2 linked regions of the Homo sapiens genome follow. The protein of the gene in region 1 purifies or fractionates together with the protein of each later gene. This does not show direct contact. Each region holds a gene or a part of one and is shown on either strand. Other genes may lie near its edges.

Region 1 (3,500 bases):
AAAAAAAAAAAAAAAGGCCGGGCACTGTGGCTCATGTAATCCCAGCACTTTGGGAGGCCGAGGCGGGCGGATCATGAGGTCAGGAGATTGAGAACATCCTGGCTAACACGGTGAAACACTGTCTCTACTAAAAATACAAAAAATTAGCTGGGCATGGTGGCGGGCGCCTGTAATCCCAGCTACTTGGGAGGCTGAGGCAGGAGAATGGCGTGAACCCAGGAGGCGGAGGTTGCAGTGAGCCAAGATCACGCCACTGCACTCCAGCCTGGGCGACAGAGTGAGACTCCGTCTCAAAAAAAAAAAAAAAAAGGCTGGGCGCGGTGGCTCATGCCTGTAATCCCAGCACTTTGGGAGGCCGAGACGGGCGGATCACCTGAGGTCAGGAGTTTGAGACCAGCCTGACCAATGTGATGAAACCCCGTCTCTACTGAAAATACAAAAATTAGCCAAGCATGGTGGCATGCGCCTGTCATCCCACTCAAGAGGCTGAGACAGGAGAATTGCTTGAACCTGGGAGGCAGAGGTTGCAATGAGCCCAGATCGCGCCATTGCACTCTAGCCTGCGCAACAAAAGTGAAACTCCACCTCAAAAAACAAAAACAAAAACAAAAACAAAAAAACCCAAAAACGCTGGGCTTGGTGGCTCATGGCCTGTAATCCCAGCACTTTGGGAGGCTGAGGCAGACGGATCACGAGGTCAGGAGTTCGAGACCAGCCTGGCCAACATGGTAAAACCCCGTCTCTACTAAAAATACAAAAATTAGCCGGGCGTGGTGGTGAGTGCCTGTAATCCCACTACTTGGGAGGCTGAGGCAGGAGAATTGCTTGAACCCGGGAGGCAGAGGTTGCAGTGAGCTGAGATCATGCCACAGCACTCTAGTCTGGGCAACAGAATGAGACACTCTCATCTCAAAAAAAAAAAAAAAAGGACTTACAGGCATGTCTGCTCTTAAAAGTCACTAATTTTTTTCTCACTCAGGAAAGCTTATCAGAATTTGGGGGAATGAGCAAGATGCTGACATTAAGCATTGCCTGGGAAGGGCCTATTATTTCCGTTATTTCTGCTTTTATGTAACCATTGGTTACTTTGGGGGCTATAACACGTATAATTAAAAAAAAAAAAAAAAAGGCCAAGTGTGGTGGCTCACACCTGTAATCTCAGCACTTTCGGAGGCTAAGATGGGAGGATCACAAGGTCAGGAGTTCGAGACCAGCCTGGCCAACATGGTGAAACCCTGTCTGTACTAGAAATACAAAAATTAGCCAGGTGTCGTGGTGGGTGCCTGTAGTCCCAGCTACTCAGGAGGCTGAGGCAGGAGAATTGCTGGAACCCAGGAGGCAGAGGTTGGAGTTAGCCAAGATCGTGCCACTGCACTCCCAGCCTGGGTGACAGAGTGAGAGTTCGTATCAAAAAAAAAAAAAAAAAAAAAATCTTGAGTGCTTACCTTGTGCTAGGCACTGTATTCTTTTATGATCTCAGTTAGTCCCCACAGCAACCCTATAAGGTGTCAGTACTGTTATAACTGAAACTAAGAGAGGCATTTGAAACTTTGTTGAAGTCTCACAACTAGGAAATGGCAGAACCAAGATTTGAACTTGGGTCAGTATAGGTCCAGAGCTGAGCTCTTCAATGTTAGACTGCTTCCTCTGCTTATTACTAATAACACCGAACTTTGGACAGACGCTGAATGACTGATTGTGACATTCCAGCACGTTTTTTTTTTTTTTTTTGAGACAGTCTCGTGTGGTCGCCCAGGCTGGAGTGCAGTGGCACGATCTCGGCTCACTGCAAGCTCCGCCTCCCGGGTTCACACCATTCTCCTGCCTCAGCCTCCTGAGTAGCTGGGACTACAGGTGCCCGCCACCACGCCTGGCTAATTTTTTGTACTTTTAGTAGAGACGGGGTTTCAGCGTGTTAGCCAAGATGGTCTTGATTTCCTGACCTCGAGATCCACCTGCCTTGGACTCCCAAAGTGCTGGGATTACAGGCGTGAGCCACTGCTCCTGGCCAGGTTTTTTTTTTTTTTTTTTTTTTTTTTGAGATGGAGTTTTGCTCTTGTTGTCCAGGCTGGAGTGCAACGGCCTGCAGTCGTGGTTCACTGCAACCTCTGCCTCCCGGGTTCAAGCCATTCACCTGCCTCAGCCTCCCAAGTAGCTGGGATTACAGGCGCCTGCCACCATGCCCGGCTAATTTTTGTGTTTTTAGTAGGGATGGGGTTTCACCATGTTGGCCAGGCTGGCCTCAAACTCCTGACCTCAGGCGATCTGCCCTCCTCGGGCTTCCAAAGTGCTGGGATTATAGGTGTGAGCCACTGCACCCCGCCAATCCAGCAAGTTTTAACTTGGCCAAAATCCACCAATCTTAAACTTTGTGCACCCTTCCCACTCTGAAGAACAGTGAGCCAGCCGGCCAGGGTGCGGGTATCTCCTACCTACCCTGGGGCCCCTCACTGTATGTTGACTATTGACAAATATTTATTGTGTGCTGGCTGTGAATAGGACTTGTATATTGAGCACTTAGGTGTCATGAACCATGCTGGATGTTTTGACCATATTATCCCCTTTAATTCTCACGACCCAACTCTGTGGGGCACTTTTACAGCTGGGAAACTGAGGGTTCAAGGGGTTAGGTATGGGACTTGCCCAAGGTCATAAAGGTATGTGGTAGCCAGAGTCCCTGTTCGGCACAGACCTGTTCTTTGCTGTCCTGGCCAGTGTTCCAGGCCTTGGGGACATAGCTGGGGCTGAAGCAGGGCTGTTTCTGCCCTCAGGCAGTTTACATCCTGGCAGAGGGGAGAGCTGGGCAACAGTGAGTTGCACAGACTTGTCTTATTACCGCTGTGGTATGTGCAGGAAGGGGAGGTGCTGGTTCTGAGGCTCCAGAGGGCTTGTCTTTTTTTTTTTTTTTTTGAGACGGAGTCTCGCTTTGTTGCCCAGGCTAGAGTCCAGTGGCGCGATCTCGGCTCAGTGCAAGCTCCGCCTCCCGGGTTCAAGCGATTCTCCTGCCTCAGCCTCCCCAATAGCTGGGATTACAGGCGCATGGCACCACGCACGGCTAATTTTGGTATTTTTAGTAGAGACTGGGTTTCACCATGTTAGCCAGGATGGTCTCGATCTCCTGACCTCGTGATCCACCCGCCTCGGCCTCCCAAAGTGCTGGGATTACGCTCCCGGCCTCTTTTTTTTTTTAGACAGAGTCTCACTCTGTTGCCAGGCTATAGTACAGTGGCACGATCTCAGCTTACTGCAACCTCCGCCTCCCAGGTTCAAGCGATTGTTCTCCCTCAGCCTCCCGAGTAGCTGGGACTACAGGCACACGCCCAGCTAATTTTTGTATTTTTAGTAGAGACAGGGTTTCACCGTGTTGGTCAGGCTGGTCTCAAACTCCTCACCTCGTGATCTGCCTGCCTCGGCCTCCCAAAGTGCTGGGATTATAGGCGTGAGCCACTGCGCCTGGCCTTTTTTTTTTTTTGGTACAGAGTTTCGCTCTGGTTGCCCAG
Region 2 (3,500 bases), on another chromosome or scaffold:
TTATCTAGAAAAATGTATGTATGTAAAACATATTTATGTGATGCAATGTAAATATGTCGTGACAAAGTGGTATGTCAAACTTTATGTTGCTTTGCTTAGTTAAATAAACCTTCATTAAATACTTTCTACTTAGTTTGTATAAGTCATCTGTTTAGATGTAAATTGAATTATCTCTTGGTGGATGACATCTGACTGACACACATTGGCAATCAGTTATTTCTCCAGCAGTGACCAAATATGTAGCCAGTCTCATGTTTTCAGTATAGAAAAAATATATTGACATAATATTGATATTTTAAGTATTAAAATGAGATTATATTATAGAACCTGCTTATAAACCAAATGTTTTCTCTGTAGTGTCTTATATATTTCCTTCCTAATATGTCATAATTAAAATATTTTGGGCTTTTGCTTGGCCATTCTAACTAATGGTATGTTTTTGGTTTTATGTCAGCTGTGGAAGCAGTTACAAAAGGCAAGACAAAAAGAAATTAGGCGATGGAATGTTTTAACTTTGGCTTTGTTAATAAATTAAAAATTGAAGGCTAGTCCCATATATAGTTCTCTTGACTTTGTACATTTAAATTGAGTTAACCTTAGTTATGTTTTGTTTTCTTAGATAGTAATTCTTCATACTTTTTAAAGAATGGAGATAGAATCTAGCATATATTCTTATACACCCAAATATAATTACTTTATGTTAAAAAAACTAATGAAGCAATTCATTTATTGTTCTTTTGTTAAATAAAAAGGAACAAGTAGATAAAAAAATGCTTTGGAAAGCATAAAGTGCAATAAAAATGTTAGTTATTTTGTCATTTGTGGGTTTTTTTTCTTAAAGGCAGTGGATATAACTTCTTGTGGAAACTTTGCTGTAATTGGCCTCTCATCAGGAACTGTAGATGTATATAACATGCAGTCTGGCATACATCGAGGAAGTTTTGGCAAGGATCAAGGTAGAGAATTTTTTTCCTTGTTTTTTATTAATGTAGATAGATACAAAACTAGTAGTGAAAGCTGGTATGTATAATCTTTAAGTGCTGGGCATTTTGCTAAAGTTGAAGATGGGTTATAATCAACCCTATATGGCAGATACTGCAATTGTATCATAAGGACCATGTTGAAAGAGAAAAGTCATGGGTACTTAAAGAGTTACGTGGATATTATACAGATTAATTTTTTTTCTTCTCTCCTTTAAGCAGAAAATCTTAACAAACTTTTCAAACCTATGTTGTATCGATCTGATTTCTGTTTTTTTACTCGAACAGTATTAATAATTAAGAATCTTCTTACACCCCTAAAATCCAGATTAATTTCAAGATTTTAAAGGATATTTAAGTGGCACCTTACATATTTGAATGAAGGAATCACTGTGTGTATTGTTCAGAGAGAAACACTGCCAATTCTGATTTTTTTTTTCTTTTGACATCTACCTTACAGCTCACAAGGGATCTGTTAGAGGTGTCGCAGTGGATGGATTAAACCAGTTGACAGTTACAACTGGTAGTGAAGGATTACTCAAATTCTGGAACTTTAAAAACAAAATTTTAATCCATTCTGTGAGCCTCAGTTCATCTCCAAATATCATGTTGCTACATAGGGACAGGTAAACTTTTAATGATAATGGATTTTCTCTTTGATTCTTTTGGTAAAAGTCATAAAGTCACAATTTACCAAGTGGGAAAAATCAGACTCTTTAATAAAGAACAACATTTGGCTTAATTTCCCCCAAAGTGTACTTGATTTAACAAAATTCAAGTGGAGGTGAGATTTTAGTTCAAGGGTTTTTTGTTTATTAAAACTGGTGCATTTATCTTGCTAGTGGCATTCTGGGACTCGCCTTGGATGACTTCTCCATTAGTGTTCTGGACATAGAAACTAGGAAGATTGTCAGAGAGTTTTCTGGACACCAAGGCCAAATAAATGACATGGTAAAACAAACTCTAACTAATAAAACTTGACTCATTTCTACTTTTGTTTGGGTGTGTTATCCTTTAATAGCCTTAAAATCATTATATGAGGTGGTTATCAATTTTAATTTGCAGGCTATTTTTCAAAGATTTTAAAGGAAAATTTTGAATTAAAAGTTTAATATTTTTCAGGGAGTTGATGCGATCAAATTAAAGTATAAGTTTTAGAACTCATCTTTTTTTTCATTAACTCTAAACAAGGCCAAAGTATACTTTAGAGAATGAATGATCCATTGGTATATATGTCATTCTTAACTTAATATTAAAATAGGCTGGGAGAACTCATTTCTGATTTACTATGTATGGAATGAATTAATAGTAGAAGACCATTTCCCTGGAATATCTGGTATCTGGTTTATTTTAGTTTAGTGCTATTTCTAGAGTTTACATATCTTAACTCTGAAAGGGTTTAATTAATAAAAATGTGCTTAAGTTTACTATTATGTTCTTATAATGGGATATATGATATGGAAAGAAGTAAACTAGTTTAAATAGCATATTTCATTAAAAAGAACTTTTAAAATAAATTTGTCACTTGAGGACCATATTAAGTGTATATTATCATCTTTCATCAATTGCAGATACCTTGATTTGCTTGAAAATAGAAAAAGTAAAATAAAAATAAAATCTTAATACTTAGTGACGAACCCAACAGCTGCATTTACTAGTTCTCACACCAAAAATCAGAATTTACTCCTTTCCTTCAAAATTGAAGAAAAAAAACATGGTCAGGACATTGTGTTCTGCAGATAGGAGGCTGGCAAAATTATACATCAGCAGAATTTGTTTTGACAGCATCTGTAGAAATGAGGGTGGGATTGGGTTAATTGTGCTGAAATGGCACTTTTGAAAACATCTGTCAGTGTCAAGTTGCTCTTCCTATTTCTTTTTCAAACCTTACTTTCAACTTGTATATCTCGAGTTTCCCTGCTCAGTAATAAGTTATTCCGGTTAGTCAAATCTGTGAGCATTTATAACATGACTTTACCTCTCAGAATCATTCTTTCCCATCCTTTACTATCTGTACCACCCTTCTGTAAATTGATCTATCTATAACTTGAGATTTGAGTTCCCATTGTATTACTGCAGCCTGAGGAACAAATCAACATTTACGTATCCCAGTATCATCTACTAATTTAAACTGATGGATGAACAGTCTACTACAACTGTAAACTTTAAAGTTTTTCCTTTTGGGTCATCTTTCACCTGTGATCTGGTTTGTGCCTCACAACCCTTAGGTACTACAGGCAGAGAGATCTATTATTTATCCATTTTCATAGCTAGAAAAAATAATGGGTGGCATAAGTAGTTTATTTAAATTTATTTTGAAAATCTGATTATTATAGTTTGTTTAGAAATAAAGCATTATTAAAAGAGAAAAGATTTTTAACTTAAGCTTCAAGAAAAGTAAGCCCTTATCACACACATAAACATTGTCTATAAATAAATAGAAGATTGTGATTTGAAAATTAATGCAGTACACTTTTTTAACTTTTAATAATTCATTTAAAAGTCTAATCTTTATCCAGA

What was found. Proteins that work in one complex are often made in the same cells at the same time.
Region 2: the proteins of ESRRA (region 1) and WDR36 fractionate together in Homo sapiens (co-fractionation; one large-scale study listed by BioGRID). This does not show direct contact.

What each region holds. Positions count from the first base shown.
Region 1 is NC_000011.10:64,308,524-64,312,023, forward strand, and holds part of ESRRA (steroid hormone receptor ERR1), read left to right. Parts: intron 1-3,500. UniProt on the Homo sapiens protein: Binds to an ERR-alpha response element (ERRE) containing a single consensus half-site, 5'-TNAAGGTCA-3'. Can bind to the medium-chain acyl coenzyme A dehydrogenase (MCAD) response element NRRE-1 and may act as an important regulator of MCAD promoter.
Region 2 is NC_000005.10:111,109,348-111,112,847, forward strand, and holds part of WDR36 (WD repeat-containing protein 36), read left to right. Parts: intron 1-841; coding exon 842-956; intron 957-1,440; coding exon 1,441-1,606; intron 1,607-1,822; coding exon 1,823-1,931; intron 1,932-3,500. UniProt on the Homo sapiens protein: Part of the small subunit (SSU) processome, first precursor of the small eukaryotic ribosomal subunit.